3 separate regions of the Homo sapiens genome follow, and regions 1 and 3 are each linked to region 2. The links come from fine-mapping of genetic effects on gene expression. A gene starts in region 2. Each other region holds a variant in brackets. All regions are shown on one strand. Distances are from middle to middle.

Region 1 (6,058 bases), 390 kb after region 2:
GAATTGTGTCTTTTCATTTAATATAGTCAAATTTATCAAATTCCTTTGTAGATCATGATATTTTCATGTTAACAAAGCTGCCTTGGCTCCAACGTCATGAAGATATTCTCCTATATTCCCCCTTTAGAGTTTTAACATTTCCCCTTCCACATTTCGATGTATATCAAATTCTGTTTCTATAGACAGCTAATTTTATTTTATTAGGCAAACTTCTACCATTACTTTGAGGGGTCACTAACTGATTATGGTTTGGTCAGCGTAGCTGTCAGACACACAGAGACTCACTACCAGGGGGCTTGGGGCTCAGTGATGTTTGGGAAATGCCGGAAAAGTCATTAGAGGGGAGCTGGGTCATAAAAACATTGAAAACCCTTGATCTGCAAGCAAGGTTTATTGCCTTTGAGATTATTTGGAGGACAGAAGGTTACAATTCCATGAAATTCTCTTAGGTCTCTTTGGCCCTATTTATAGACTAACCAGTCAATGATCCTCCCATCTTGACAGAGGCCCAGGTTAAAAGGTTCACAAAGTGGTATCCCCTTTACTACCCCCATTGGCCGCCAATAGCTGAGAACTGCAGCCTCTGCTAGGAAACCAGCCTGTTCAGTGCTTTGGTTAGCATTTCACCTCCCATCTCAGGATCCCTCTGAAGTCTGTGTCATTATCTCCATCTTACAGCTGCTTGGACCCTGGCACTCAGGAAGGTGACAGGCCCCGTGCCTATGGGGCGGATCTAGTATTCAAATGTGAAACAAATTCCCATGCAAGCACTCTTTCTATCCCGTTATTTCCCAAAGAGCAAGATCTCTGTTTCTGGTGGCCAAATGACTTTAAGTAGTATGTACAGAATAGCTTTTTGTTTCAATATTCCATATTGGTTTTTTTTTTTTTTTTTGAGATGGAGTCTCACTCTGTTGCCCAGGCTGGAGTGCAGTGGTGCAATCTCAGCTCACTGCAACCTCTGCCTCCCGACTTCAAGTAATTCTTCTGCCTCAGCCTCCCAAGTAGCTGGGACTACGGGTGCATGCCACCACGCCTGGCTAATTTTTTGTGTTTTAGTAGAGACGGGGTTTCACCGGGTGGCCCAGGCTGGTCTCAAACTCCTGAGCTCAGGCAACCCACCCACCTCAGCCTCCCAAAGTGCTAGGATTACAGGTGTGAGCCACCGCGCCTGGCCTCCATATTGATTTTTATGTGAACTGGAGATCATAAAACAGTACTCAAGCATATCCTGTCAAGCATCACACTGCTTAGGCGATGGTAACAAGGCACTGCAGGGCTGGGTGTGGCTGGTTATGTGCACAGGTGTGGAGCCCACCTGCCCCCCAATCCCAGCCAAAGTCCAGCCATGTCCTAGCCAGTGACCTGGCCTCTGGCAACCTGCCCTCTCCCTGCCTCTATTCCCCTATGTAAAATGGGACAACTATAGTTTTTACCTCAGCCTACTGCTGCAAAGTTTAAATGCCAAAATAGGCAAAATGCTGAGAACAGTGCCTGGTATGAAGTAACCATTCTGTTATTATTAAATATTAGTTTGGATTTTTGGCCAGGTGCGGTAGCTCACTCCTGTAATCTCAGCACTTTGGCCTGGGCAACAGAGTGAGACTTCATCTCCAGAAAAAAAAAAATTAAAAATTGGCTGAGTGTGGTGACTACTTAGGAGGCTGAGGCGGGAAGATCACTTGAGCCCAAGAGGTAGAGACTGCAGTGAGCCGAGATGGTGTGGCTGCACTCCAGCCTGGGCAACAGAGTGAGGCCCTGCCACAGAAAGAAAAAAAAAAAAGATTTTTAAAGGGATACTATTTTTTAAAAAGATAGTCCTGTTTCAAATAATTTGAATACTACTATCTAAAACATTTGCATTTATAGAAAAAATGCTACTGGCATGTTGTGGCTGTGGAGGTAAATCATGGCCCTCGCACATCCCACCTCCGCACTGACACTCAGCATTTTCAGCACATGGTTCTCTGTCCTGGGTGCACCTTGGAGTTTCCAGGGTAGCATTTAAATGCCTAGCAGCTGTCCCCGCCTCAGACCACTGGAGGCAGAAACCCTGGGGTACAGCCTGGGCATCAGACTCTGCGGAGCCCCCGCTGACTGCAATGTGCAAGGTCGAGAGCTCCTGGTCCAAACATCTGCCTTCCTCTGGGTCCAAGTAGCAGGGCAGAGTCTCCAGGAAACCGGCACACAGGTGGGGACTCCGTGCCGCAGGAGGAGGAGCTTCGGCCCTCAGTGTGTGTTCTGCTGCGGAGGTGAGTGCACCTGCAGAACAGGACAGGAAGTAGTCCAAAGCATTGAGGGCTGAGGGCTGGTGCCCCAGGCCTTAGTGGGGGCCGTGGGGGCCTGAAAGGAGGGTCGTGGAGGCGGGGCCAGCCTGGGAGAGAAGCTGGAGGATTCCCACCTCTGGCCAGAAAGCCTTGGCAACTCGCCCACAGTCCCAGAGCAGCCAGGGCAGCAGCCAGTCTGGGGAGACCCCACAGAGCCCCTGGCCTCACTCCTCCGCTCCCCCGACTTCCTGCTGGACCCCCATTGGCAGAATCAAGGGTGCTGTCGGTGCAGTTGGAAGAGGTCAGCTTCCAGGGCCCACAGGCTTATCCACTCTGGAGGCTCTGATCATCACCTTGGGAGACTGGGAGAGAGGAGGAGAGAGCTGAAGACCAAGCACAGAGAAGAAGGCTGAGAGGCTAACGAGGAGGCTAAGGAGGAGGAGAGACCACTGAGCGGGGATTCGGACAGAGTAAGGAGGGTGACACAGCCCCACTCGCTGCTGCAGCCCAAGCAAGGCCTCTCCACACCCAGTCTCTTCACCTGGCCCAGGAGATTGTTGGATGGAGGCTCTAAGCCAGCTCTGAAAGACACTGCCCCAGAGCAGGAATCGTTTCTCCTCCCCTTTTACCCCATGAGCACCAGTTCTGGAATCTGAAGTCACACCTTGGTCCCAGACTTCCTGACCTCGTGAGTCTCATCCTCCTCCTTTGCAAAATGAAGAGCATTCACCTCTTGCAGTTGTGGGGGCTGCACGTGGGGGATGCACGCTCAGCACTGTGGGCTCAGTTGTGCTGGCCTTGATCTGCAGTGTCTGGTCACCAAGAGTCACCCTCAGCATCAGCCCGGGCAGCAGCTCCAGATCAAAGTGGAGAAGGGGCAGGAGAGAGAGGAGGATGGAAGGGAGGTGGGGAGGGACAAGGAGAAGGAGGAGGGACAAGGAGGAGGGAGGAAGGGAGGACGGGAGAGAGGTGGGGAGGGACAGGGAGGAGGAGGATGGACAAGGAGGAGGAGGAGGCAGGAGTAGGAGGGAGGAAGGGAGGAAGGTGCGGCGGGACAAGCAGGAGGAGGGAGGAAGGGAGAGAGGTGGGGAGGGACAAGCAGGAGGAGGAAGGACTAGGAGGAGGTGAAGGAGGCAGGAGGAGGAGGAGGAGGGAGGAAGGGAAGATGGGAGGGAGGTGAGGAGGGACAAGGATGAGGAGGAAGGATGAGGGCAGAGGAATGGAGTATAGGAGGGAGATGGGGAGGGACAGGCAGGAGGAGGAGCAACAAGGAAGAAGAAGGAGGAGGAGGGAGGAGGAGGGTGGAAGGGAGGATGGGAGGGAGGTGAGGAGGGGCAGGGAGGAGGAGCAACAAGGAGGTGGGGGGATGATGATGAGGGGGAGGAGGGTGGAAGAGAGGATGGGAGGGAGGTTGGAAAGGACAGGGAGGAGGAGGAGGAGGGAGGAGGAGAAGGAGGGAGGATTGCAGGGAGAAGGAGGAGGGAAGGGGAGAGGGACAGGGAGAAGGAGGAGGAGAGGGAAAGGAAACAGGAGTTGGTTTGATTATTGTGAGAAAGTAGCCCTGGGATCTTGTCCTCATTTTAAATATGGGCTTTAATTACACATATGGGGCTGGCAAAGAAAAATATGAACCCCCAAGAGATCATGACCCTAGAATACGTTTTTCA[G/A]TACAGGGGAAATTCCCAATTTGATGCTGCTAGATAGGCCATGTTTTTGTTCTTCCCCCTCACTAAAATCTGGCTCATAACCTTAAGCCAAAAAGCAACGCTACCTTGACACTTTGCTTTTAACATTTAAACAGGGTCTAAGGCCAGAACTGGTTGTTCAGGATGAGATATGGGGGTGTGAACTGGCACTCCTGCTGGCCATAAATCAGGGCAAATCCCACAGATGCACCTCCTGTTTGGATAAGAACTGCGGAGCCAGCTTGGAGGCTGGTGGGGAGAAAGAGAGAGGGAGGAGAGGAAGAAGAGCTAGAGGAGGAGGAGGAGAAGGGGAGGAAGAGGAGGAGGAGAAGGGGGAGGAGGAGGAGGAGGAAAGGGGGGAGGAGGAGGAGGAAGAGGAGGAGGAGGAGGAAGAGGAGGAGGAGGAGGAAGAGGAGGAGGAGGAAAAAGGGATGTGGTGCTATGCATGGCAGCAACTTCCTGCACTTAAAACAAGCTAGTTATGCTTTTTTGCTATCAAAAAACAAGTGCTAGGTTAAGGTCTAACTTACTAACAAGCTGTGACTCAGACCACCACGCCTTGTAGCTCATTTCCTAAGCAACAGAAAGAAACGCAGCCACACTGTAGCTAAGCTGCCCACCTAAGCATGTGCGGGCATCATTTGTGCTGCTTTGATCAACAAAACTTTTAAACATTTCAATCATTTTATGTAAGTTTTTTTTTTCCAAAATAAGCTTCACATTTCTCACAGAGTTGAAAAGCTATTCTGAATTATCTGGAGGCTTTCTACTCATGGAGATGAGTATGAATCAATGGGCAGCTCCCACAGCCATGTTCTCTGGAGGTACATTTGTTCATTTCATCATTCGCACCTATTATGTGCCACAGCTCTCGTGGGCACTGGAGATTCTTCAGAGAATAAAACAGACAAGATGCCTGCCCACAGGACACTGACATTCTCATAGAGAAAGTAACACAGAAACACACATCATACAGGGCTAGATGGGGCTGTGCTATGCCGACAAGAAAGCAGGGAGCAGGTGCAAAAAGACACTGAGATCAAGGTGTCTTGCTCTGATGCCTAGGCTGGAGGGCAGTGGCACGATCTTGGCTCACTGCAGCCTCTACCTCATGGGCTCAAGCAATCCTCCCACCTTAGCCTCCCAAGTAGCTGGGACTCCCAAGTAGCTGGGACTCCCAAGTAGCTGGGACTTCCAAGTAGGTACATGCTGCCACACCTGGATAATTTTTGTATTTTTAGTAGAGAAAAGGTTCTGCCATGCTTCCCAGGCTGGTGTCAAACTCCTGGGCTTAAGTGGTCCTCCTGCCTCAGCCTCCCGAATTGCTGAGATTACAGGCATGAGCCACCGTGCCCAGCCTATACCAACTATTTTTTAATAGCTTTTTCCTGTCTATTCTTCATTGTCATCCTTGACTAGAAATTTCTGAGCACCAAAAGAGATGGGCAAAGTCCAGTCCCCTGAAGCCCCTGAAGCCCTTAGAGCTTACCCACAGGTCCCTGCTATTGGTATTGTACTTCGTCCACAATGTTAGTACATTTGGTTATTTGGTCTTTGATGTCAGCACATACTAGAAGCAGAAAAGTAAAAGGAATACAAGGGGAATACAAGGTCAGTATTAAAAAAGGGGATGTTGAGTTTTTAATTCATTGGGATTCCTTGACAGATTTTACAATTTACTTTTAGATATTTGACTAAGTAAAGAGGTTCTGGCGGTCAAGGGGTGGTTCTATTTCTGCTACATTCTGATTTAGCTGGGTTTTGCTAGATCAACTTGGGACCCTAAAAACCGTGTCAACCGTGGTGATGCAGGGATGCTCTCATGATGAAAATAACCTGTGCTCTGAGAGTCTGTCCTGCTCCCCCTCAGACAGCCAGCTACAGCAGGATGGCACTGTGACAACCGGCCCTGAGCACCTCCTGTGTACAGAATAAAGGACTGCCCCCACCTGCTACAACCCCAAGGCACTGACTTTTGCTCTCTAGGGCTCTGGGGGGAACCCCTCACTCCACGCCTGAAACAGCAGTTGGGCAGGGAGGCCAATCTGGGCCCCAGATGGCAGCTGCTGTGTGACCCTGGGCAGGCTACCTACCCTCTCTGTCTAC
Region 2 (8,798 bases):
CCCAAAGTAAAACTCTCATTGGTCTTGTAGTGGCAAAAAAATATATATTATGTACATGGACACGTATACATATATGTACATATATGTATATACATATATATGTATATCCATATGTATGTGCACATATATGGTTTAATTGGTGTTCCCTAGGGGAAGGAGGTCTATAGTGTTCTTTAAAAGTTTATTTCTTTAAAACGATCAATGACATTTAGAGGGGCAAAGGGCTCTTCTTAAAAAACAGAAGCCAAGAAAAATAGTTCCTCTTGTCCAGCGTTTACTTCAAAGTGGAATGAAGAGTGAAAAGAGGAGGATTTGCCAAAAAAGAAAAAAGTACTCAGAATCACCCAGATTGTAAATTTTTAAGCGTCTAGAGATCCAAAGCCTGTTTTTTCTTTTTTCCCCCCTCTATCTTTGGGAGTCTGGAAGGTATTCTACAATCTCAGTCCCAATAAAATACTCATGCAATTTTATTTCTAGTTGATACAATTTTAAAGGCCATGTACAAATGTTATACATTTTTATTTTTGTTCTTTTTTTAGGAAAAAATACACAAAAGGCAAAACATCCTCAAATGGTCCTTTTATACAGTGCAGAAGGAAATTTCAAATTTCAAATACGTGTCACAAATGCTGCACTCTAGCAGCCAAAATACAAAAAAAAAAAAGGAGGGTAGTCCTTCATATTATATATATATTTATATAAAACATATGGAAATTTGTTTTTACACAGATCGGTCTTTGTTTCAAATTTACAATGGATATCTAAAAAAAATTCTACACGGCAAATATTGCCAACAAAGTTACACCATTAATACTGATAAACGGAGGAGCCTACGCGGTGTTTTGATTATTAGGGAAAGAAAGTAGAATAAATAAACAGGAGCCTTGCTATAGTTTTTAAAAGTGCCTTAACCTTTCTGCGTCCCCGCAATCCTGAATCCGCGCGGTCACCGGGCCGTCCTAGTCCCTGCGTCGCGCTGTGTTCGGCTCGTTCTCGGACCAGAAAGTTTACAGTAGAGGTTGGGAGACAGAAAAATACCCACTGAAAAAGTCTAAATAAAATTCAAGACAAAACATAACAGAAGAGGCTGAAGCGAAGGAAGAGGAGGAACATGGAAGGGGACGGAGGCGGACGCCCGGACGGCCGCTTGCTTCGTGGCTCCTTTGACTTTCTGTTTAAAGACGGACAGTGGCTTCCGAAATGCAAGTTGTTCGCACAAAGATCCACCTGTGGTCCACGGAGGAGACTTCGGAGGTGGGGAGGGAGATCGGGAGGGAGATCTGAGCTCTTGTCACTTCCCGCTCCCTGCAAAAGACGGCTCTAAAGGGAGACTTGCGCATTCCAAGACATTCTTTCAAAAAAAAAATAAAAAATAAAAAGATAAATACTCAACCAAAAAATAAAAGTATTTGATAATGATTGGTCTCACATGTTTGCTTTTCTTCTAAAAATTTTCCCCCACTTCTGCCATTGGCCGGAAGGAGGGGGGACCTCAGCAGAATTCCTGTGTGGGTGCGGGGGCTTTCCCCTGCACAGCACCGTCTCAGGCGGGTTCAACAGGATCAAAAACTTTTATTTACCGATGGCTGCAGTCAGATCAGACCCACCACTAACATTTCTTAACAATTTTGAAGGAGTGAGGAAGGAGGTGCCAACCGCAGCGCTGTGTCTTTGCATTGGGGACTCCTTGCCAAAAACTCCGGTTGGGGAGAGGTGGAACCCTTTTCTTCTGCCGACGGTTATACCTCGAGAAGAAAGCAGTTTCTTGTGCCGGTCCAGGGTCCCTGTGACCCGCCTGCCTGCACCAGGAGGGCCTGCGGCGGCAGCCTCACATCACGCAAGGCTTGATGTCTTGGTAGGTGACCTGCTGGTGGTAGTAGGAGCCCCCGCCGGCCGAGTGCATGGAAGAGGACGCCATGGCGTTGAAAGAGAAGACAAACTCCTTTCGGTCACACATGCTGGGCGACTGCGAGTGATACCGCGGGATGCCTGCAAGGCGAGGCGACAGGAGGGGTTGGGGGAGCAGAAGAGTTAGCCACGGTGGCTCAGAGTTCAGGCAGAGGAGCAGTGCTCCCGTGGGGCGCACAGGGCCTGTCAGCCTGGCTCCAGAGCACGGCCGCCTCCCCGCTCTCCTCCCCGAGTCCCGGCCTTCCAGCTGCGCACCCAAGGAAAAGACTCCAGAACACTTGCCACGGCCTGCCTGCCTGCCTGCCTGCCTGCCTGCTGCGTGCCTGTCCAGCCTCGGACACCGTGCAGGGGCCCAGGGCTTCCAGAGCCATAGGGGAAGTGGTGAGGGAGACCAAGTGGAGGGCCCCTAACGCCCATGGCCGTCACCGCCAGGGCAGCCACCACCACCCCCAACCTCAGAGGCTACGACTGCCGGCGGGGTTGAAGGAGAGGCCAGTGCAGGGCCAGCGCCGGGCCAGCAGCAGGGGTGAGAAGAAGCTTCTCCAGAGAACAGGCCCCGGAGCCGGGGAGTCCCCCGCAGAGAGGCTGCCTAAGGCCTCCAGGCCTGGCTCCTGCCTCCTGGGGCTGCTGACAGCTGACCCTGGACTGGCCCTGGCAAGCTCACTCCAGCTTTTTCCAGAGCTGGGCCTGCAGGCTGCGGGGGGCCTGGGGCAGAATCAGGAGGCGAGGCTGCTGCATCTCCCTTGGCAGATGCTTCTGCATGTTCGGGGTATTGGGGTATCAGGGGTGTTGGGGGTGTGGGGACCTGAAAACTTGGATCCTAAAAAACAAGGAGCCCCCATGGCCCGGTCTGCAGCTCTGACCCTCCGGGGCCTGGCCACGGCACCCTCCTGCCTCAGTCACCACAAAATGCCCCTGGACTCAGCTGTGGGTCTGCCAGGTCTGGTCCCCTGAAAGGCCGGGGCTGAGCCTCTGAGCGCTGGCCCAGCGGCTTTGGGCCTAACACCTTCCGTTCCGCCCAGCCCCAGGCAGAGGCAGCCCTCCAGGCAGCCTGAGGGCCACCACCAGGGAGGGACAGCCATCTGGCCAGCGCTGGGAGCCTTGGGTCCATCCCAGGATCTTTCCAAGCTGTGAGGGGACTTAAGGGACACAAAAGGACTTAGGGCACTGGGGTCTGGGACATCTGGCTCAGGACCAGCCTACCTGGTCAGGCCTGGAGCAGCTGGCAGCTGGAGTTCGAACAGAAAGAGAAACAGATTGGCCCAAACTAGGGTCAAGAGCGGTAGTCACTCTTCGAAGGGGGAGAGGTGGGGCCAAGAGACACCTTGGGGAGCTGGTGCCTCCCCTCAGCCTTGGGGTTCCGACCACAGAAGTGGAGGGGCTCGCCCCAGCTGGGTCCCGCTGCCACTCAGACTCGACTTCCCGGGGACCAGGGCGCCCTCGGCCTCCCCACTCACCTTGCAGCTCGGCTGGGGCGTTGTGGCTGTTCTGGTGCAGATACGGCTGCTCCAGGGAGTGCGTGGAGAGGCTGCCGGACAGGGGGTTGGCCGCGGGGTTACAGGGGGACAGGGGCTGCTGCTTGATATAAGAGGCGCCGCTGTTGAGCGCCGCGGACGCCGAGGGCGGCCAGGCCGCCGCCGAGCCCGAGTAGACGGCGTGCGGCTCCATGACCCCACCGGCGCCGGTGGGCAGCAGCGGGGAGGCGGGCACCGAGCTGTCGTGGTGCGGGTACTCGCCGGCCGCCGCGCCGCCGCAGCCGCCCATGTACGAGTGGCCGCCGTTGGAAGGCAGGTGGGGCACCGAGTGGCTGGGCAGGGCCATGCCGTCCACGTTGCCCGGCAAGTGGCCGTTCATCATGCCCAGGCCGCCCTCCAGCGCCAGGCTGTTGGGCGGGCACGAGAGGCCGCCGGCCGAGCCCTGGAAGCCGTAGGTGTCCGGGAGGTGGTTGAAGCCGAGCCCGTTCATCATGCTGTACATGGGCTTGAGCGCCTGGCATTTCCTTCGGAAGCCGCGCGGCCGCCGCCGAAAGGAGCCCTCCTCGAACATGAACTCGCTGGCCGGGTCGATGGTCCAGTAGTGGCCCTTGCCGGGCCGCCCAAGGCCCTTGGGTAGCTTGATGAAGCACTCGTTGAGCGAGAGGTTGTGGCGCACGGAGTTCTTCCAGCCCTGGTAGGAGCCCCGGAAGAAGGGGAAGCGGCTCTGCAGGAACTGGTAGATCTCGCTCAGCGTCAGGCGCTTGGTGGGTGAACTCTGGATGGCCATGACGATGAGCGCGATGTAGGAATAGGGCGGCTTCTCCGGGCGCCGGATGCCGGCGTTGGTCTTCTTGGCCTTGGACGGGCCGGACGACGCGGGGTCCATGGCCGCGCCGCCTCCCCCGCCGCCGCCGCCGCCGCCGCCGTGCGGTGGCTGCTGCTTCTCGGGCGCCGAAGACATCGGGTGGCTGCTGCCGCCGCCGCCGCTGCCGCCGCTGCTCTGCGCCGCGGACGGGCCGGGAGGAGGAGGAGGAGGAGGAGGAAGAGGACGACGGGGGGGAGGAGGGCGAAGGGGAGGGGGCTGCGCGCGCGGGGCTGGCTGCACCTCTGCCGTCATCGGCGGCCACTTCTCCCGAGCGAGCCGCGGCGCGCCCGCCCCCGCGCTCCCGCCCGCCCTCCCCGAGGAGCTGCTGGATCCGCCGGCGGTTGGCTCAGAGCCCCTCTCTCTCCAACTCCCGCCTCCCCCACCTCTCTCCTCCCTCTTTCTTTCTCGCCCTCCCACAAGGAAAGGAGCCGAGCTGAGGCCGAGGGCAGCCCGGGCGAAGGCCGTGAGGAAGCTACCCCCGCCGGTATTTTTTGGGGGGAGGCACCACCTCCAGGTCTTACGGCCGTGCGCCCCAGCCGGGAGCAGCCCTGAGTCCCCGCCGCCCGCGGCGCTCGGCTCCGAGATTCCGGGCGAGGCAGCCTTCACTCCATCTCCGCTCGGCTGCGTCTCGCGGGTCGGCCTAAGACCCTCCCGGAGTTCCCTCCCTCCGTCCCTGCCCCCCTCGGGCCCCCGCGTTGGTGGGCGCTTAAAGAGCCCCCACTCTCGCCGCCCCGCGGCCGCCAGCAGAATCCGCCCCGCCTCCACCAACCTGGCGAGCAAGTGTTAATGCGCCCTCCGCCCGCGGTTCAGCCCCGGTGCGCGCTGGACCCCGCCTTCCCCGCCCGGGCGGCGCGGCGGGAAACGCTCCCTGGGCCGGGGCCTTCCCCGACGCGCACAGCCCTGTAGCAAATCGCAAGTGCGGCGGCCTCCCGGTCGTGACCATCGCAGGCACAGCCGGCTCGACTCCGGTCCTCGCGGCCGGCCGGCTAAGTTCCCGCGAGGGACCGCCTACCCACTCTCCCCGCCCCGGGAAGAACTGCGCCGCTCCCGGGATTTTTCGGACTCGCCCAGCAGCTTGCGAGCGGGCGGGCAGCCGCCGGGGCAGAGCGCAGGCGGAAAACGAAAGCGCAGCACGAGTCGCGGCCGCTTTGTCTCGGGCGCCGCGGGCCTGACGGGGGCGAGTGAGAACCCGCTGGCCCAGAGGCGACCCAGACCGCACAGGCCCCTGAATAAGCGGCGTGCTCAGTCACTCACCCGTGCGCGCACACCCTCGCGCTCTTGTCCACACATTAGCACACACATACATGTCTTGATGCACATGCAAACCCGGTAAATTACGCAAACAGACGTGTAAACACACCCATGCGTGTGTGCACACTCATATGCAGAGGGCGCTCAGGCATGTGCGCACCCACTAATGCACTCGTTGACACGGAAGCTTAAGGCCCACAGGAGCTTAAGTTCGCACTCACTCCCACTCACGCGTACACACGCCACGCTCGGATCTGAACTCACACGTAGTTCAGTTGCCCTCCCCCACCCCCAACACACACTGAAAACCCGCCTATTTGGCCCCGCGGCCCCGTTTTCAAAGCGCAGGTTCCGATTTCCCGAGAGATGGCAAAGGCCCTGGCAGGAAGTTTACAGGGTTTAACGTAAACAAGTTCTGGGGGATTCTTTAATAATAATAATAGAGAATTCCGCGTGCGCAGGGCGGGAGGGGGGAGTTGGCCTAATGCCCCTGTGGGCTCGGCCTGCCGCCGCCGCGGGGCCTCTGACACTGCGCGCCAGGCCAGGTTCCTGAGAGCAGACAGCGCGGGCTGGGAGCGCCGGCAAGGGCGGCCCTCGCGCACCTGGCTGCCAGCCCGCAGGGGGCTCGCACGCAGACCTGCCCTTGCCACCTCAGCGCTCGGGTGCGGGCTGGGGGCGGTGGAGCCACGAAAGGTGGTGCCGAGAGCGGAGCGCAGGACAGCGCAGGAGCCCCGGCGCATCGCGGCGCGCACAGACCCAGGTGAGTGCTGCTCTCGCAGCGACTGCTGGCCGGGCGCGGCCTCTCCCTCCAGGGTTCCGAGTTGAGAAGAGGGGGGCGAGGGGTGTTTTCGCGGGTCATCGCGAAGAGCCTAGAGGCCAAGCCCCAGCGCGAGCTGGGGCGAGAGGCGTGTGCCGGGCTCGCAGCACGGCCCGCGGCGCGGCGCGTTCAAAGCCTACCCGCCTCTCGGTTTTCTCCGGACTCCTTGTCTCCCGCTAACTACCCGCCCCCACCTTCCTGGCTCGGACGCCTTCATTTTCGGCGGGAGACGCCTGTCGCCTTCGGGGCGCCTGGCACGTCGGTGAGAGGAGCTGGGGGGCTCGCCGGCGCAGCCTGCCGGGCAGTCGCCGCCTCCTCCGCCAGATCTGCGCTCGCGGGAGAAGAGAGCCGCCTTCCCGCGCTGCCCTTCCGCTGGCCTCTCTGGGTCTCCGCGTGCAGACAGCCTGGCCCGCCTAGGGAAAGAATGAGTGTGGGACGTGACCCGTAGTGTGTGGTTGTGCATTCACGCAGGTAAACGCTCTCTGGCAGACCCGCTACCACTTCACACAACCAGCTCAGCCTCCGCGCACACAGACACGCTCCGCACCGCCCACGGCCTCAAACACCCTTCCCAGCGACCCTCACACAGCTCAGGCGCTCCCAACCCTTGGACCAACACACAGGCCTGCCCAACGGGGAGGGCACACTTTGGTTTAAGTGCACACTTCATGCACGCCCACATGTTCTCCACTGCGCGTTCGCCCACGCATAGCCAGGCGCCACGCGCAAATAATCATAGGTACCGCCGCTCCATACGTGCGCACGCGTCCACGAACACAAGCATTCTCACATTCTCTCCCAACTTTTGTGTGTGTGTGTGTGGCAAATGGCAGTTGCAGATGAGGAGACCCTGGCCTCCGGAGGAAAGTTCTGTTCCCAGGAAGGGGTCGCTACTGCCGACTGCCAGAGCACATCTGGCCCTTAGCAGAGGTGAGCAGAGAAGGCTGCACAGCTCTTAAGCCAGCTAGGGGTGCAGGGCGCACGCTGCGGCTCGCTGAAAGTGGAAATAGCATCTCCCTTCCCCTCGCCCCTCCCCCACTCATGGGGCGCCTTCAAAGTGAGCGGGTCCCTAGAGCATGAAGTTGGGGAGCCCTTTCCCAGCAGACTCCTTCACTCCTGGGCCCTCTTCAGTTGGGGAAGGGAAGCCGCAGGTCCCATCGTTGGCTAACCCGGAGATCCATTTTTCCCTCCTTTCCACCCTTCTTTCTGCCCTTTCACCGGCTCTGATAGCAAACCAGACCTTACAGAACAGCCAGTCACGGAGCCCAGCGAAAGAGCCGGCCCAGTAGGCCTGGGAGTCTCAGGAAGGCCAAAGATGGAGGCTCTCCCCAACTGCTCATCTCTACTGCTGGGTGTGTGTAGAAGTGGGGGCGTGAGAGAGGAGGCGAATGAGCTCCCAGCTCTGTAATTTGGAGGGGACCCCCTGAATTCTGGGGAAAACCACAGCCGTAGCAAGAAGGGCTTTCCTTCATGCTCAGAGACTTCATTCTCAGCTCTTACAATGTCCCTGAGAGGTCTCCCTTGATCCTACATTTTTAGGGTGGAGAAACTGAGGCTCAGCATGGACTTGAATCTCTTATCAGCCAGCACTGAGAGGTGAACACTCTCCATCTCCCCTCTCTACGTCCAAGGACAAAATTTCCTGGCGTTTCACTCTCCCATGTGCCTCTGTGTAGGCGGGGAGTGGAGAGAATGGGGCTTAGAAATGCCTCTGCCATCATTACACAGCCCTGGCTTCCCAGGGCCAAGGGGACAGAGAGCCCCCGTTGGGGAACTGATGGTGATAAAATAGCAATGACAACTACGAATACTAGATAATAACAGGCTCATCCACTGCTGCCCAGGCACCAGGCGCTGCTCCTCACTCGATGAACTGCCCTTGTCTGCTCCTAACCTTCCTCTTGGCTGTCAATCCTTTGAAAATTAGTCCGACCTGCCCCCGCCCCCAGAAGGTGCATATTTGTGACATTCGTAGAATGATTTTGAAGGTTTCGCCAAATGTCTGGAGCCCATCTGTGAACCTGTGAGGCACCAACCATGAACTCAGGACACTGGTTAAGTGTCCCTAAGAGACTTGTGTAATATTCACCGATGCCCCTACCAAGTCAGTATAATTTCCCTCCTCATTCACAGTTGGAGCTCTGCGAGGTCACTCCAGGTCCTGGGTCACCCTGCAAAGCCAGTATCCAAACCTGGCCTGATTGCAGAACCAGGGCGTTAAGTGTCCTGACCACGGGGTGAGGCTCAGCGGTGCTCAGGGCAGAGGGGCCCCGCTGCCGCGAACCCCAAAGGCAGGGGGATTTGAACTCGCCCCACCATGTAAGGATGATGCATAAGCTCTTTGCACCTTAGTTTCTTTATCTGAAAAATGGAACTCATCATGGTTCCTATTTCTTGGGGTCGTACAGAGGGTTGGACAAGACCATGCAGGGAAGGCTTAGGTTGTACAAACAGAAACAAAAACCCCAGGGGCTCAGCTCCA
Region 3 (6,064 bases), 160 kb after region 2:
CCAGGATCAGTTGAACTCCTGCAAGACCTGCCAGTGCCGAATTACAGCAATCTTGGTGCCTGCTGAGGTGGGAGTCAGGGAGGCTGTGGAATTCTGAGCTTCCTGGTTGGCTGAGGAGAGAGGGCTCAGGGGAGAGGTCTTCCTCCCACCACTGCCTTAGAGAAACCCCAAAACCTCATAGCTTCGAACCCCAGAATTCTCTGGTCTTCTGCAAAAATGCAGACATGCTGGTGTCAGGAATCAGCCTGGAGTCCCAGGAGCAGCATCTCACATCTTTACGGCAACACAAAACAAAGCAACACAAAAACAACAAATGCAAAGATATCTTCTTGAGGAGAGGCCTCAACTGAATGAGCAGGGAGGGGCGTGTTCCTTAAACCAGTGGTTCTCAAAAGGTGGTATCTGGACCAGCAGCAGCAGCAGTGCCACCTGGGTGCAGACCAGAGGATTCCAGAGCCCTGAGGGCTCCTAGAAGGAACACAGTGACATCACAGAGTCATTGTGGGGGAGGGGTTGGGCCAGCCAGGGCAGGCAGGGACAGCCCCTCTGATGAGGAGGCCACTGGGCTGAGACCAATGAATGAGATGGAGCCAGCCACGTGGTGAGCCAGAAGAGGGCATCACAGGTAGTGGGTCCAGCATGTGCAAAGGTCCTGGGGCAGGACAGTTCTTGGGGGTATTTGAGGTACAGGATGATCCCTGGATGAGCGCCTGGGTGCATGAAGCATGTGTGGAGAGTGTCAGCTCCCAGCGTGGCTGCAGGAGGGAGTTGTTTAATGAGTACTGAGTTTCAGCTCTGCAGGATGAAAGGAGTTTGTGTGTTAGAAATGCACATTCTCAGCCCCACCCCGGCCCCGTCACAGACCCTCCAGGGAACCCTCATGCAAGCCCAAGTCTGAGATCTGCTGCTCTCAACAACTGGGTGTTTCCCCAAGGGCCCCTCTGGGTGAATCTCAGATGTAGCGTGGGGAGAGAGGATACAGAGGCTGACCCCTGGCAAACTCTTCCCTCTGATACTCAGTGTTCAGGTCCATGAAATGGGCTCCCGAAGTCCAACCTCACAGACCCCATAGGAAAGCAGATGGAATCTCCAAGGGCACCAGCTATACATGGTGGTGGAAGGACCAACGCATGCTCTGAATGCCACTGCGGACCACAGGCCAGTGCCCTCCATGAGCCTGACCTCAGGCCTCAGTAATCGCTCCTTCTCTGTCCAACACGGGCCCTTTTTCTGTCCTCCTCTTTCTTTAGGCCTTTCTCTGTCCCTCACGACTGGCCTCACCCCGTCCTGGGCTCTGCAGAACTGGTGCATGGCTCTGCCAGGGGGTGAACCCTGGCTCTGCCCCTTTTCTGACTGAGGAAGCTGCTTGGCCTTTCTGTGTCTCAGCTGATCTCTAAAATGGGAGTGAAAATCTCTAAACTCATTGGCCGCAGTGAGAATTAGAGAAGACGCAGCACCCTGCTATATGCCTGGCATGGTTGCCGTCCGCCAACAGTGCCTACCAGTTATTATCAACCAGTCATGCTCTGAAACTCTCCACCCACCTAAACATGTGAGACCTCTGTGACACCCCCATCCTAGAGCTCCTTACGACCTCATTGGTTGAGCCCATGGATTCCTCTGTTTCTTAGATATCACCATTTTCCTTTCATGCGTGACTGTATAGAACCAGGTACCTGTAAACAGGAGCGTCTGCTCTGGAGCATCCTCTATTCTAATTTCTTAGCATCTCCCATTTGTGGTTTGCCATGAGAAATGAGCTTGTGGCTGTGGGCAGCCTCCCTGGGCTGTCTTCTTCCTGCTCATGTGGGATCAGGCTCGGAGCTGGAGGTCACTGCCTGCAGGGCTCCCCGGGAGAAGCACTGCACAGGATGCTCTGGGGTGATGAAAAGTTCCAGATTGGGCCATCCAGGGTTCCAGTCAGCAGCCATTAGCCACGAGTGGCTGTGCTCTTGAAGGGTGGCTCAGAAGCCTAAGAGCTGCATGTGTATCTTATGTGATCTGAATTGAAGTGTAAGCAGACACCTGTGGTGAGCAGCTTCCGAGGTGGACTGCAGCCCTGGGGAGTATCCCCCTGCTTCCAGGCTGTGCTCCCTGAGCCCCAAAGGTTCCAGCAGGTGCTTTCGGGGTTGCACCTTAGAGGCAGAAGGCAGGAAAGGTCGGTCGGCAGGGCTTTGTGGCCCCACCTTCTACAGAGCACGTGTGTCCTCATCCACGCACCATGCTGTTTGAAGAAAGCTTAGGAAAGGAATGATGAGACCCGTGACTTCAGTCAAGCCTTTGCTGAACATATAAGGAAACAGAGAGGGTCATGAAGTGGAAGGACTCACACAGCCACCCCTCCTTCAGTGGGGAAAGCGAGCCTGGGAACATGCTCAAGCCCCTTTGGGGTGGGGGGTGGGAAGATGGCGACAAGCAGTTCCTTGTGGACCCCGGTCCCTGACCCCACAGAGTGGGGACCCCAAGGGCAGTGAGGGGCAGAGTGAGTTTGTACCAGGCACTGGGACCCCAAGCTCCCTCTCTCTGGCCATGGCTGTGGGGGTCCCCAAGTGGAAGTGGAAGAGGGAAACTGAGGAAAACAAAATGGTCCTGCTTGAGAGAGGGAACATGGGCTGCTTTCTCCTCCCCCACCAGCTAGTCCAGTGAGCCTCATCTGTTCTCACGCTACTAATAAAGACATACCTGAGAATGGGGAATTTATAAAGAAGGAGGTTTAATGGACTCACAGTTCCACATGGCTGGGGAGGCCTCACACTCATGGCAGAGGACAAAGGAGAGGCAAAGGCAGGTCTTACATGGTGGCAGGCAGGAGAGCTTGTGACAG[G/A]GAATTCCCATTTAAAAAACCATCAAATCACGTGAGACTTACTCACTACCATGAGAACAGCATGGGGGAAACCACCTCCATGATTCAATGATCTCCACTTGGCCCTGCCCTTGACATGCTGGGATTATTACAATTCAAGGTGAAATTTGGGTGGGGACACAGCCAAACCGTATCAGAGCCTTTGAGATGTGTCGAGGCTGCCACCCCAGCTGAATTCATCAGCAGGACAGGAAGGGGGCTGGGAAGGGCTGTAACTTTCTTGCTCTGTGATCCAAGCTGAGACAGAAATGTTTGTTGAAAGGGGCTGGGGTCAAACAAGCCTGGGTTCAAATCCTGTCCCACCCTTGCTTGTTCTGTGACCTCGGAAGTCAGTTCCCCTCTCTGAGCTTCCTTTGTCTCATCTGTAAAATGGGGACAAAATATAAAATGTAAAAATACAAACCAGGAAGTTGGAAGTCATACACTTTCTGATTTCAAAAGTTACTAGAAAACTATGACAATCAAAACACTGTGGTCCTGACCTACATACAGACAGATAGACCAATGGGACAGAACACAGAGCCCAGAAAGAAGCCCTTTGACTTATTTGACATTCAAGTGTCTTGAGCCAAGACCCTTCAGTGGGGAAAGGGCAGTCTTTTCAAAAAATGGTATTTGGAAAACCAAATACCACACGCAGAAGAATGAAGTTGAGCCCTTCTCTTACACCAGATACAAAAAATTAACTCAAAAAGGATCAAAGGCATTACCATAATAACTAAATGTAAAAAAACTACAAAACTCTTAGAAGAAAACATAGGGGGAAAGCTTCACAATGTTGGACTCGGCAGTGGCTTCTTGGCCACGACACCCAAGAACAGGCAAGAAAAGGAAAAACAATTAAATCCATGCAAACACGTGTGCACAAATGTCCTCAGAGCGCTATTCCTAACAGCCAAATGCTGAGAGCAACGAAAATGTTCATTGACAGGAGAATGGATAAACAAAACGTGGTCCATCCATACAGTGGAATATTATTCAGCCTTAAAAAGGAAGGAAGTTCTGACACCTGCTATGACATGAGTGAGCCTTGAGGATATGGTGCCGAGTGAAACAAACCACTCATAAAAGGACAAACATTGTATAATTCCACAGACATGACTTGCCTAATGTCAGCAAATTCTCAGAGATAGAAAATAGCAGGTGGCGGAGGGCTGCTCAGGGTTACGGGGATGGGGGTGGTGTTTAACAGGGACCTTCCTGAGCTATTTCCTGATAGCAGCTGGGAGCCTTTTGAACAGCCTGCAGCGGGATTCTGGAACAATCTAAACTGGCCATGGCAGTTCCAGGGGCAGGGCTGACTTTGAACTCCAGCAGGAAGTGCAGTGCGAGGCCAGCTCACCCACTTCAGCGTCTCTTTCCTTTGTGTTGTTTAGACCCCCAAAAACACCCCCAAGTCCTGTCTCCCCTTGTGGAGGAAAGGCTGGTGGGAGGAAAGAAGGCTTGTTGAGTATCTACTGCACACCCGGCCCTGGGGCTACGGCTGGAAGCTGGACAGGCCGGGTCCTTGCCCTCCTGAGACCTGCCTTCTAGTGGGGAGAGAGATAGAGACGGAGGAAACAAAACACAGACCAGAGGATTTCAGAGGGTCTGAGGGCTCCGAGGAGAAGGAACACGATGATGTCATAGAGTCATTGTGGGGGAGGGGCCGGCCAGCCAGGGCAGGCAGGGGCGGCCTCTCTGACGAGAAGGAGGCCACTGGGCTGAGGCCAATGAATGGGAAAGAGCCAGCCATGTGGTGAGCTGGGAGAGGGCATCCCAGGCCGTGCGACCTGCGCTTGCAAAGGCCCTGGGGCCGGACAGTTCTTGGCAGAGTCTGAGGTACAGGATGATCCCTGGATGAGCGCCTGAGTGCACGAAGCATGGGTGGAGAGGGTCAGCTCCCAGCGTGGCTGCAGGAGGGGGTCGTGTAATGAATACTAAGTGCCAGTTCTGCAGGATGGAAACAGTTTTGAAATTGGACGGTGGCGATGGTGGTGCGATAATGCGAATGGACCCAATGCCACTGAAATATTCACTTTAAAAAAGTTAAAATGGCAAGGTTTACATTAACTAGACTTTGCCATAATAAAAGAAAAAGGAAAAAATATAATAACTGTGTGAAGTTGAGATGAAATGATGCAACTAATAATTTAGTTTGGTTAGCAAAGAGTAGGCACTCACATAGTTCAATATAACCATCATTATGACGGTACCCTGTCAGTGCTGGGGGATGCTTTATGAGGGAGGTGGAAGACGAGGAGGAGGCGGAGAGAGAAAGAGAATCAGCTTCTGTTATCCACAGCAGGATGCCTCTGGAGTTGTTTGAAGTAGAAAGGTAGTCCATGTGATCCCGTTTATATTGTAATATTGCTTGAGTAGGTCTTTAAAATTACAAAGTACTAGATAGAGCTAACTCAGCCCAGTCCTAATAATCACGACTCCTTGAGTATCTGTGAGGCTTCTGGTACGTTCTCTACAGTCCCAACATTGGGACCGACTGAACCATGTGTTGCACATTAAATCCAGGGTCCGGGACACCTCCCAGGCCACCTCTGTCATTTCACAAGTGCCAGGCCATCTTCTCAGTGCTTGTGAGCATCCCTTCACACTCAATCCTTCCCACACACCTGCCAAAGGGAAGGAGGCAGGAACCACCTACGGATGCCAAGAAACAGGCGGCATGGTCCTCCCGCCCTCGAGGCTGTTACCACCTGGAACACCCCACCCCAAAAGTAAGACCACCTACCATCTGGGCTTCTGTCTCACACAGGATATAGCCTCTCAGTGGCCAACTGTTTTTAATAAGGGTCTGCCAGTTCTAATGATATTGCACAGACACGGGGAAGGGGAGAGAGGAGACAGGACTTTGTCATGAGCTGTTCATCCCTCCAACAGCAGTGCTGGTGTCACGGCTGATGGGCAAAATTCCTACAGATGCCTTCTCTTAGAAACTCACTTCCCTCTGGAACCAGACGCAGGCTTCTCCAGGAAACAGCTCACTACCTGACACAATCCCCAACCCCCCTCTGTCTTCTTTTCCCTTTTGCTTGGGAGAGCGTTTTGGGCCACTGCCAAGAGAGAGAGACCTTAGGCTGCGCACCGAGTCCAGGCATCTATGTTTACTAAGGAACCAAGAGTCCCTCTCTTGAAAAAGAAAGAGAAGAGAATTTTTTTTTCTTTCCTGTGAAAGCCATTGCTGTGGCTAGGGCCATCAGAAGC

Direction of the effects. Positions count from the first base shown, and alleles are read on the strand shown. Sizes are in standard deviations (SD) of each study's normalised expression. Not every link is listed here.
For the expression in monocytes after R848 of the gene that starts at base 4,387 in region 2, A is the low allele of the variant in region 3 and G is the other (moderate effect, 0.67 SD a copy in Quach 2016).

The links. PIP is the estimated chance that this variant, and not a neighbour inherited with it, causes the effect.
Region 1: its variant is fine-mapped to the expression of FOXF1 in spleen (GTEx, PIP 0.96).
Region 3: its variant is fine-mapped to the expression of FOXF1 in monocytes after R848 (Quach 2016, PIP 0.95).

The regions. Positions count from the first base shown.
Region 1 is chr16:86,119,119-86,125,176 of GRCh38, reverse strand. No RefSeq gene overlaps it. Among named protein-coding and RNA genes, the nearest start is that of LINC01082, 74 kb to the left of the region's middle. The variant G/A (reference allele first, on the strand shown) is at 3,935.
Region 2 is chr16:86,506,116-86,514,913 of GRCh38, reverse strand. FOXF1 (forkhead box F1) reads right to left here and starts at 4,387. Exons shown (of 2, transcript NM_001451.3): 1 at 3,366-4,387; 2 at 1-1,989. The coding sequence starts at 4,344. The coding sequence ends at 1,829. It overlaps FENDRR (FOXF1 adjacent non-coding developmental regulatory RNA), which reads left to right and starts at 6,054. Exons shown (of 4, transcript NR_033925.1): 1 at 6,054-6,259. RefSeq lists an enhancer at 2,128-2,894.
Region 3 is chr16:86,344,112-86,350,175 of GRCh38, reverse strand. LINC00917 (long intergenic non-protein coding RNA 917) reads left to right here and starts at 4,497. Exons shown (of 7, transcript NR_024406.1): 1 at 4,497-4,684. The variant G/A (reference allele first, on the strand shown) is at 2,825.